3 linked regions of the Homo sapiens genome follow. The protein of the gene in region 3 interacts with the protein of the main gene of each other region in a pairwise test. Each region holds a gene or a part of one and is shown on either strand. Other genes may lie near its edges. The genes, in order: ZNF366, CLCN7 and GLE1.

Region 1 (3,648 bases), on a different chromosome or scaffold from region 3:
TAAGTATGTGTGTGTGTATTTATTTATAGTGCAGACCTGATTTTATCTAGCTAGCCATTTCTATTAAAAAATATTTGGAAGGAGGGATGTCAAAATCTTAAATTAATGAACACTCTCTTTTCACTTTTAATGTATTATTGTTTTATTTTTTACCATGAGCATATGTTTTATCATAAACAAAAGTAAATCAATAATAAAGCCATTTTCATCTTGAACAAAACAAAGAGAACCTATTTGGGGCAGCAGACACCACCCCTGACTGTGGCCCCTTTGCCAACAGCCTACTCATAGACAGGGTAGAGATGGCATGAAGAGGTCCTCTGAGGAGCTCACACAGCCCCTGTGTCTGACCTCCAGTGTCCCTGCTGTTGGGCACAGTGATTCAAGGAGGCCTCACTTTTGCCTTCAGTTTGCAGGGCTGTAGGGATGGGCTTTTCAGCATGGCAGTTTCATTTGATCCTGTCTTTAAGGCTTTGACCTTTGATGAGCCAATAGTCAGGCCTCCAGGGATGGGCGGGACACTGAGGAGGAGCAACAGGAAGGGAGGGGTCCTGGGGTGCAGCCAGACCAGGCTTCTGGGAGGGGGTGAAAAAAGAAGGGTAGGGGCGATGATGTCCAATTTTGTTCACTTTTTGATGCTGTCAGGCAATGAAGCTGTCTGTATCTTTAATCCTGTCAGGGGACAGGAAAGATCTTTTTAATGATTTTTGAGCCATTTCAAAAGCTAGAGTGAAAAATAAAAGCTAATACCCTTTGTAGATGAAAACACTGAGATTGTTGAAAGTCTGTTAAAATTTTTCAAAGCAACCCTCTGATAGTTATTTTTCCAGAACAACAGAGCTGTTAGGTGTCTTTTAGGATTTGAGCAGCAGTGTGGGGTAAATCATGGCGACCAGGTCATGCTTTCAGTTGGAGTGTGGTCTCCTCACTGACTTGTATGTCTCCCGTCCTGATGACAGAGCAAACCTCACCGCTTCCGGAAAAATCCAGGTCTAGCTTGGGGAAGTGGCTCAGGCAACTAGAGATTCAGTGAATAATTCAGGGGAAAAACTTTTGCAGGAAAAATAAAATTGTTTTTGTTTTAACTACAATTTTTTTCAGGGCTTTTGCACAAACTCCAGCCCTTTTTTTGTGACCACAGCTCCCTGTTATCCAGGAGTCACTAGAAACTCAGCGGGTACTGTAAAAAACCTGAAAGCTACAATCATTTTGTTTCACACTGTGTGTGCATATGTCTATCTGTTTATGAATATGCTTGTCCACTCCACCATCTCTTTTGTAAGGAGGTGAGTGAAACAGCACATAAACAAATCACCCCATGTTTCTGCCTAGGGTAGTGAGCACTGGCTTGATTCAGAAATTGGGCTGGAATCCCAGTTCTGTCTTCAGACTTGCTGTTTGACCTTGAGCAGTTTATCTAACACCTCTAGGCCTTGGTCTCCTCTTATATAAAATGAGAATAACACAGTCTCTTTCACGGCATTGTAGGGCCAAGCAATAATGTCCCTAAGGTGTCTCACCCTGTGCTTTGATCATACTAGTGACCGAAAAGCTGTTAATATGATTTTGCAAACACAGACATCCTAGAGGGCAGATGGTCTCCTTCCCCTAGTATCTGCCGCTGCGTGTAGTTCACTGCTTTGGACACAAGTGCATTTATTGCCTGTTTATTGAAGGGCTGGTTGATTAGACGATTAAGGAGCAACCCTGCTGAATTGAGTAGATCTGGAACATAAACTCTTCACTGCCAAGGGCTCTGGGACTGAGAAGGTAAAGGCAGTGAGAACTTTTCATTAGTTCAGTGAGGATTCAGTGGGGGAGGTGTAAACCCCTGCTCTGCATATGGGCCAATCAGCCCTACCTACCAAGCAGGAAAATTGTCCTTGGGTGTGTCTGATTGTGAACAAGTAGGAAAGACCTAGCCTGCTACCAACATACTTCTGCTAACAGTAAGGCTTGCACATCTGTTTTCTAAAAAGGAAAGAAAAATTGCGTGCCCATTCACAGCAAAGTCATGAAGAGGATACAATAAAGGCTGCACAGTCAGAAAGGCCTAGGTTCAAATCTTGACTCTGCCACTTTTCAGCAGAGCAACTTTGGGCAAATTGATCTCTTGAAGCCTTCATTCCCCCGCTGTAAAATAGAAATAATAGAAGTTCTTCCAGCTTGGAGTTGCCATGAATATTAGCGACAAGCCACCTGATGTAGTGTCTGGAACAAAGGAACAAATAATGGTACCGACTGGCATCATGATGATAGTCCAATTTACTCTAATTCACTTGTACTTACTATGTCAGAAATTAGCATCAGATTTTTTCTAGTAACATTATAAGGTTACTCTTGCTACTCTGCTGTGGTCTTGACAAGAATAACCCTCAAGGTAATGCCCCATAAAACGAATTCAGCTCCCATTTGTTGTCCACTGGACTGACTTGCAGGGCTTCCCAGAAGAGTGATTACCTTGGGAATGAAGGCCCCGCTCCATGACTCCATGCTTGACTTTCATGTGGCGTGTCAGGTTCCCCTTCAGGGTGAATTTGCTTGGGCAATAGAGGCACTTGAAGGGTTTGCTGTCTGAGTGCAGGTGCATGTGGCCCATCAGGTTGTGCATCCGGTTGAATTCCTTCCCACAAAGCTGTTGAAGATGGGGATGAGAACACAGGTTACTCTGCCCGAGTGAAGCCCCATCCAGGCCCCTGGAGCACAGATACCGTTTCTACTTTGTTTGGACATTGACATTTTAATCTGCTTGCAAGGAAAATGTCCATAAGGAAATCAGGAAGGAGCCTCAGAGGTGGAGCAAGTAGGGGTAGATTCATGAGATTTGTTCCTGGATTTCAGAGATCTTTAAATTCAAAGTAAAAATATCAAAGCTTGTAAAGCTTCTTTTGAATAAAAGCTTTTGAAAAGGAGAAGAGCTGATCTAAAAAGCAGTGGCTACAAGTGTTCCTCCTTTAATAATAAGAATGTGATTATGTGTTTAATATTTATGCAGCATTTGCAATATGGAAGGCATTGTTCTAAGTCTACCATGGAATATCTTATTTAATTCTCACACCAATCATATGAGATGGTTGCTATTACCACCCCCATTTTACAGACGCACAATCTGAGGACTTACGTCACTTGGCCGAGGCATACAAGTGGTGGGTGCTGAAGCTGGGTTAATGAACTCAGGCCATCAGATGCCAGAGAACACATGGTCAACCACCAGACCATACTGTGCGTCTCCCAACACAACTCTTCTGTATCAGGCAGAAGAGAATAAAAGAGTACACTGTATTCTTATATACAATGTATTATTATAATACACTGTATTATTGTATACAATGTATCAGACAATGCTTTTTAAGTTGCTTTATTTTCTAATTACTGGCATGGATTTCAAAGATAAAAAAATGAAAAATCATCTAAGGAAGGAGTGTGTCTTTTCTCTGGGTAGAAATTTGAAGTAGTGAGAGTAGTATCTCAGGTGTACAGGAAGTAAGCATGTTTTATACTCTTTCTTTCTTTCTCGTCATTCTCTCTATTTCAATCAAAGTGCAAATACATGAAGGACAACTGGTTCTCCAACTGCTTTTGGAAGAGGAGCAGAACTTTCTTCTCACAGGTGATTTTGTATATGCAGAAAGCGCAACCCAGAAGCAG
Region 2 (3,648 bases), on a different chromosome or scaffold from region 3:
GCAAGGGGTTCTTTCGTTTCCTTCCTTCCTGAGGCAAAGCTGGGCCGCCCACCGCATCCTACAGGCACACCTGCCTCCGCCAGCGTGGCCAGCACAGGGGAGGTGTTCCCGCTAGCCCCGCCTAGCAAGGCTCCTCATACACCCCTGGCACTGGAAGGCTGGTCACCTGCGGCTCCACGATGCCCCCTCTCCCTTCGGCTGCTCCCCGCCCCCAGGGGCCTCATCCTCTCCACCTGAGAAGGTGTGTAAGGTGTTTATCAGCCTCCCTGCCCCAGGGCAGAACCCACAAGGGCGCAGACCCTAAACACAAGGGCGCTGAGTGTGTGGGGGAGGACTGTATGTTAAAGATGCCGAGCAAACTCAACCCTCAGCCAACAAAAGTTATAGAGCAACATCCAAGAAGGTTCAGGCCAGCCTGGCGCGGGTGACAGGCGGGTCGCCATTCCCAGCTGCTCCAGTAAACCTGATCTCCCACCACAGGGCAGGGGCACCCCAAGGTCACCTGGGAGCTTTCGCCAGAGGGGACACACTGGTCCCGCTCCTTGGCCACGGGGACCAGGCCCCGGAAGCACCCCCAGGGGGCAGCGGCCATGCTGCCCACCCATCCTCAGACGGGACGGGGCTGCGGCAAGTCTCAGGCTAAGGAACGATGGCGGCACAGACAGAAGCAACCACAGCGGAACTGGGTCAGGACTCCCAGCACCTCCAGAACCAGATGCTCTGATAACACCAAGTGTAAATGACCATGAGGCAAACTGAAAGCGGGAAACTGCTACACGCCCACTACCACGACAGCTTCCACGGTGAATCAGTCACCACCACGCAGCCCACAGTCACAGACGCGTCGCACAGCTGTGTCACACATGCACCACGCAAGCATTTCTGTATGACTACTCATTTCTTACGTAATTTAATATGTGCAAATACCAGTTGTTACCACTTTCAGAAAAAAAGGTGACCCCTTCACACCCAGCCAGCCCATCTGCACACAGTGCCACCAGTACACAGGGTGGCTGAGGCCAGTTCTGGAAGGCAGGCAGCCAAGAGAGCTGCTCCTGAACCAGCAAAGAGCGGGCGCCCACCCTGCCCAGCCAGGGCCACCGCACCCTCACCTTGAGCCGCACCACGTGGGGGATCTTCACCCCGTTGAGGAAGCACTTGATCTGGGGGATTCCGCTGCCAGCAGCCACCGGCTGAAAGAGGGGAAGCACGGCTGAGTGGGTCACGGCCAGGCTGAGACAGATGCAGCCCCTCAGCCCCAGGAGCCCCAGGAGCTGAGGAGAGCAGCAGACACGTCGGGGCCTCAGGGAAGGGGAGCTCAGCACACAAACGTCGGGGCCCCAGGGAAGGGAAGAGCAGCACACACGTCAGGGCCCCAGGGAAGGGGAGAGCAGCGCACACGTCGGGGCCCCAGGGAAGGGGAGCTCAGCACACACGTCGGGGCATCAGGGAAGGGGAGAGCAGCACACGCGTCGGGGCCTCAGGGAAGGGGAGAGCAGCACACATGTCGGGGCCTCAGGGAAGGGGAGCTCAGCACACACTTCGGGGCCCCAGGGAAGGGGAGAGCAGCACACATGTCGGGGCCTCAGGGAAGGGGAGCTCAGCACACACTTCGGGGCCCCAGGGAAGGGGAGCTCAGCACACACTTCGGGGCCCCAGGGAAGGGGAGAGCGGCACACACGTCGGGGCCTCAGGGAAGGGGAGCTCAGCACACATGTCGGGGCCTCAGGGAAGGGGAGCTCAGCACACACTTCGGGGCCCCAGGGAAGGGGAGCTCAGCACACACTTCGGGGCCCCAGGGAAGGGGAGAGCGGCACACACGTCGGGGCCTCAGGGAAGGGGAGCTCAGCACACACGTCGGGGCCCCAGGGAAGGGGAGCTCAGCACACATGTCGGGGCCTCAGGGAAGGGGAGAGCAGCACACACGTCGGGGCCTCAGGGAAGGGGAGAGCAGCACACACTTCGGGGCCCCAGGGAAGGGGAGCTCAGCACACACGTCGGGGCCTCAGGGAAGGGAAGAGCAGCACACACGTTGGGGCCCCAGGGAAGGGTCTCATGTCGTTGGGGTAGCTGCTCTCACTCTTCCCAGCCCAGACACAGATCAAGGACGTGGTGGAGGCGGAGGTGGAGATGGAAGGAGGGGAGGGCAGAGTGAGGAGATGGAAGGAGGGGCGGAGTGGGGTGAGGGTGCCCAGGCCTGTGCTGGTAGGTCAGGAGCAGCACCCCAGGGCTCTGGGGGTGAAGAGGCCCTGGTGTGTCTGCTCCTCCTGAGGTTGTGAGTCTGGACCACGTGATTCTAAAAGTGCCCGGGTTGTCAGCCAATGTGATGGTGGGGGTGGGTGAGCTGCAGGGGTTCCCGCCCATTCACCAAGACCCCCAATCCTTCATGGGGTCCGCCATAGCTGCGGCATCCTGCCACCCACCTCTATGAAAGCCACAATCACAGAGCCCACGAGCACGAAGGCGGCGTTCAGCGTGGCCCACAGCAACAGGGAGAAGGACAGTCCGCCCTTCTCTGTGAACTTGTCGATATCTGGGGCTCATCAAGGAGGGCTGGCTGCTTCCCCGTCATGACCACCCAGCCCAGACCTCAGCCCTGCCCCACAGACCAGCCTGGCAGATGCCACCCTGCTGGGTGGAGCCATGATGTTCACTGGACATCCCAGAGACGTCTCACGGCCCAACCATGACAGGGACACAGCCAGCCTGGCCGGGCCGCCTCCACCTGCACTGGAACACGCTGGGCTCAGGACTTCTGCCCGGGACTCGGCCCAGGCCACGCCCCCCTCCCAAGCTGCAGCGGCCGCACTGGGAAGGATACTGCCCTTGATGACCCTGTACTTGAGGCCAGCCAGGTTTTCCACCACGATGTCAATGAAGCAGGCCACGAGGCCCGTGAGGATCCCAATGAGGGCGCAGATGACCCAGCGCTTGATCTCCACCGTCCGGAAGGCCTGCAGGGCGCGGTCAGGGCGAGGGTCAGGCAGGGCCCTGGCGCAGTCACTCTGGCAGCAGCAGGACCGCCCAGACCGCCTGCAGGCCCCGGGATTATGAAGGGCCCAGTGTGCACGGTGCGCTGAGTCCCACAAAGGACAGTTTCTGGCCAACATCTGAGGCGCACCCGGGGCCCGAGGGTGACTCGGGGAGGTGGGTGAATTCCCAACAACTTCACAGCCAGCGGTTGTTATGCTGGGCACCGCATCTGGCGGCCGTAAGAGCAGCCTTCTTGGTTACGGTGACCGTGACCCTCCCACTGTCTCTAGAAACCAGACGAACCACAGGCCTCAGAGGCGGAGTCAGAGGAGGAGGGAGGAGGTGCGTCACCTCACCCCGGCAGAAGAGCAGCCCCAGGCCCGGCCGGCACCAGGCCCCGCACCGTGGGGCCCTGCAGGGAGCGGCGTCCAGCTCACCGTGTGATTGATCCGCCGCTCCTCCTCCAGGAACAGCTGGTTCTCACTGTTGTCATAGTCCAAGCTCTGCAGGCCGGGACAGCAAGGGCAGCACTCAGCACCGAACCCACGCTCTGGGTGCGGGCACAGGGGACCGGGAGTGGGCTGGCAGGGGGCAGAGGCCGGGTCTCAGGGTCAGGGGGACAGAAGGACGCCCACCTCATACTTGAGGGACAGGAGCTTCTCGTTGTGTGGGATC
Region 3 (3,648 bases):
AACCTCTGGTTCTAAAGAAGTTTCTTCCTTGTCTGGTTCTCACTTTCTAAACCTCAGTCTCTGGAGAGAAAAGGAGTCCTGGAGGATGAACAAGGCGAGCTTGGAGTAATTTGGAAAAGCTAATGTTGTAGGACAGAAGCAAAGCCTGCAAGTCACAGCCTAGGTTCCCTGAGTGATGTTTTCAGCAGTAAACTGCAACTTCAAAGCTAAGAGCCATCCTAATAATTTGCCATAAAAGGTAGCTTGTTAAAAATGAGTCAAAAAGGCCGGGTGCAGTGACTCACGCCTGTAATCCCAGCGCTTTGGGAAGCTGAGGCGGGCGGATCACAAGGTCAGGAGGTCGAGACCATCCTGGTTAACACGGTGAAACCCCGTGTCTACTAAAAATACAAAAAATTAGCTGGGCGTGGTGGCGGGCAGCTGTAGTCCCAGCTACTTGGGAGGCTGAGGCAGGAGAATGGCGTGAACCCGGGAGGCAGAGCTTGCAGTGAGCCGAGATTGCGCCACTGCACTCCAGTCTGGGTGACAGAGCAAGACTACATCTCAAAAAAAAAAAAAAAGGGGGCTGGGCACAGTGGCTCACGCCTGTAATCCCAGCCCTTTGGGAGGCCGAGGCAGGTGGATCACCAGGTCAGGAGATTAAGAACATCCTGGCTAACACAGTGAAACCCCGTCTCTACTAAAAATACAAAAAATTAGCCGGGTATGGTGGTGGGCGCCTGTAGTCCCAGCTACTCAGAAGGCTGAGGGAGGAGAATAGAACAGCGTGAAGCCGGTAGGCGGAGCTTGCGGTGAGCCGAGATCACGCCACTTCACTCCAGCCTGGGCGACAGAGCAAGACTCTGTCTCAAAAAAAAAAAAAAGAAAAAAAGAAAAAAAAAAGAGTCTTCTTTTTTTGTTTTTGAGACAGAGTCTCGCTCTGTCACCCAGGCTGGAGTGAAGTGGTGTGATCTCGGCTCACTGCAATCTCCGCCTCCTGGGTTCAAGCAATTGTCCTGCCTCAGCCTCCTGAGTAACTGGCATTATAGGTGAGAGCCACCACACCCAGCTAGTATTTGTATTTTTAGTAGAGACAGGGTTTCACTATGTTGGTTAGGCTGCTCTTGAACTCCTGACCTCGTGATCCGCCCACCTCGGCCTCCCAAAGTCCTGGGATTACAGGCGTGAGCCCAGCCATGATTATATCAGGGAAACAAGATGTATGTCACTTATATGTACCCGATCCAACTGTAAACATTTGTTTGAATATACTTTTATAGGAACCTTACAGATACATAGATTTGGAGTCTGAAAGATAATACAATGAAATGAAAGGTCATGTTCTCAACCCCTCTGACCAACCTGCAATGGTAGAGATTTGGCTCACTGGGATGGTAGCAGCCTTCTGGAGGTCCATCTTTATCTTTTTGGCCTGCCAGAAGAGAACAGTGAGAAAGCAGTGTTCTGAAGAGCTGAGTAGATGTCACTTAGAATCAGGTAAAGTGACATGCCAGCTACATTCCTTTGGGACACGAAGTGATCATTCTCTGAGAACCATCAAGTCCACAAAATTACTGCCATATACCTCTCCCCTACCTGACTGTCCTTGCTGTTGGTCAGGCCCTCAAAGGTCAACACACACTGCATGGAAGCATCCTGCAGCTGCTGGTACCACTGCATTGTAATGTCTTGTACCTTCACCTGGAGGTCTGAGAAATAAAAGAGAGGTTTTAGTAATAGCTAGTATTTACTGAACATGTAATATGAGGCAGGCACTGTTATAATCACTTTATGTATGTACTGACTGCTTTAACTGTCACCATAACTATGAAATAGATACTATTATTATCTCCATTTTATAGAAAAGGAAACAGGCACAAAAAGGTTAAGTGATTTGCCATGGTCACATTACTACTAAGTAGAAAAACTAAGGCTGGGTGTGGTGACCCACGCCTATAATTACAGTACTCTAGGAGGCCAAGACAGGCCCAGGAGCTTGAGACCAGCTTGCACAACATGGTGAAATCCCATCTCTACAAAAAATACACAAATTAGCCAGGCAGGGTGGCGCATGCCTGTAGTCCCAGTTACTTGGGAGGCTGAGTGGGGAGGATCACTTGAGCCTGGGAGGGTGAGGCTATAGTGAGCCATAATCATACCACTGTACTCCTCCAGCCTGGGTAACAAGAGTGAGACTCCTATCTCAAAAAAAAAACAAAAAACAAAAAACGCTGGGCGCAGTGGCTCATGCCTATAATCCCAGCACTTTGGGAGGCCAATGCTGGCAGATCACCTGAGGTCGGGAGTTCGAAACCAGCCTGACCAACATGGAGAAACCCCGTCTCCACTAAAAATACAAAAAAATTAGCCAGGTGTGGTGGTGCATGCCTGTAATCTCAGCTACTCAGGAGGCTGAGGCAGGAGAATCGCTTGAACCTGGGAGGCGGAGGTTGTAGTGAGCTGAGATTGTGCCATTGCACTCCAGCCTGGGCAACAAGAGCAAAACTCTGTCTCAAAAAAAACAAAAACAAAAACAAAACACACCAAAAAAGAAAAATTAGACTCCCAGGCTGGGTGCGGTGGCTCACACCTGTAATCCTAGCATTTTGGGAGGCCGAGGCGGGTGGATCATGAGGTCAGGAGTTTGAGACCAGCCTGGCCAACGTGGTGAAATCCCATCTTTACTAAAAATACAAAAATTAGCCAGGCACAGTGGCAGGCACCTGTAATCCCAGCTACTCGGGAGGCTGAGGCAGGAGAATTGTTTGAACCCGGGAGGCAGAGGTTGCAGAGAGCCAAGATCGCGCCACTGCAATCCAGCCTGGGCAACAAGAGCAAATCTCCATCCCCTCCCCGCAAAAAACAACAACAACAACAACAACAACAAAAACCAGACTCCCACTGATCTGGCTCCAGAGTCAGCACTCTCAAACACTATGGTACACTGATTCTTTTTCTTTTTTTGAGACGGAGTCTCACTCTGTCACCAGGTTGGAGTGCAGTGGCACCACCTCAGCTCACTGCAACCTCCAGCTCCTGGGTCAAGCAATTCTCCTGCCTTAGCCTCCCGAGTAGCTGGGACTACAGGTGCGTGCCACCATGCCCAGCTAATTTTTTTATTTTTGGTAGAGATGGGAGTTTCGGCATGTTGGCCAGGCTGGTCTCGAACTCCTGACCCCTTATACGTATTACACCAACACATATCTGTGCGCATTTATTTAAAATACTCAGCAGCAGCAATAATTGAAATAATGTATCTGCTAGAGTTATACAGAATTTCAAGTCCTCACGCAAAGTGTTGGAATCGTAAATCAGACTCTACATCAACCAAAACTGAATGAAATACATTACATAAAATTCTGGTTAACTGTCCTACAGTTTAACACAACATTCAAAACATGCTCTTGTTTCTCTTCACATTTGAAACTTACGAGTTAAAGGACCACATCCATACTGAAACCCACCTTCATTCTGTTTCCCTCCTGGGCCCTGGCTGGGAGCTGGGGGCTCTTTGTGGGCCTCTGGTCCCTGCTGCATCTGTGCCTCTTGCAGCTTTACCTGGGCCTCTTCTTCATCCTGCCTCCTCTTGTCTTCGCAGGCTCTGGTGATCTCCTGCCCCAAGTTCATCAGGAGGTCCCGCATTTCCCGCAGAGCTCGCTCAGCCTCAGC

Evidence for each region.
Region 1: the proteins of GLE1 (region 3) and ZNF366 interact in binary tests that used the Homo sapiens proteins (3 or more experiments, as listed by UniProt).
Region 2: the proteins of GLE1 (region 3) and CLCN7 interact in binary tests that used the Homo sapiens proteins (3 or more experiments, as listed by UniProt).

Annotation. Positions count from the first base shown.
Region 1 is NC_000005.10:72,444,783-72,448,430, forward strand, and holds part of ZNF366 (zinc finger protein 366), read right to left. Parts: intron 2,636-3,648; coding exon 2,461-2,635; intron 1-2,460. UniProt on the Homo sapiens protein: Has transcriptional repression activity. Acts as a corepressor of ESR1; the function seems to involve CTBP1 and histone deacetylases.
Region 2 is NC_000016.10:1,457,995-1,461,642, forward strand, and holds part of CLCN7 (H(+)/Cl(-) exchange transporter 7), read right to left. Parts: coding exon 3,609-3,648; intron 3,477-3,608; coding exon 3,411-3,476; intron 2,955-3,410; coding exon 2,822-2,954; intron 2,534-2,821; coding exon 2,424-2,533; intron 1,194-2,423; coding exon 1,113-1,193; intron 1-1,112. UniProt on the Homo sapiens protein: Slowly voltage-gated channel mediating the exchange of chloride ions against protons. Functions as antiporter and contributes to the acidification of the lysosome lumen and may be involved in maintaining lysosomal pH.
Region 3 is NC_000009.12:128,525,219-128,528,866, reverse strand, and holds part of GLE1 (mRNA export factor GLE1), read right to left. Parts: coding exon 3,444-3,648; intron 1,689-3,443; coding exon 1,576-1,688; intron 1,412-1,575; coding exon 1,342-1,411; intron 257-1,341; exon of another isoform or gene 1-256. UniProt on the Homo sapiens protein: Required for the export of mRNAs containing poly(A) tails from the nucleus into the cytoplasm. May be involved in the terminal step of the mRNA transport through the nuclear pore complex (NPC).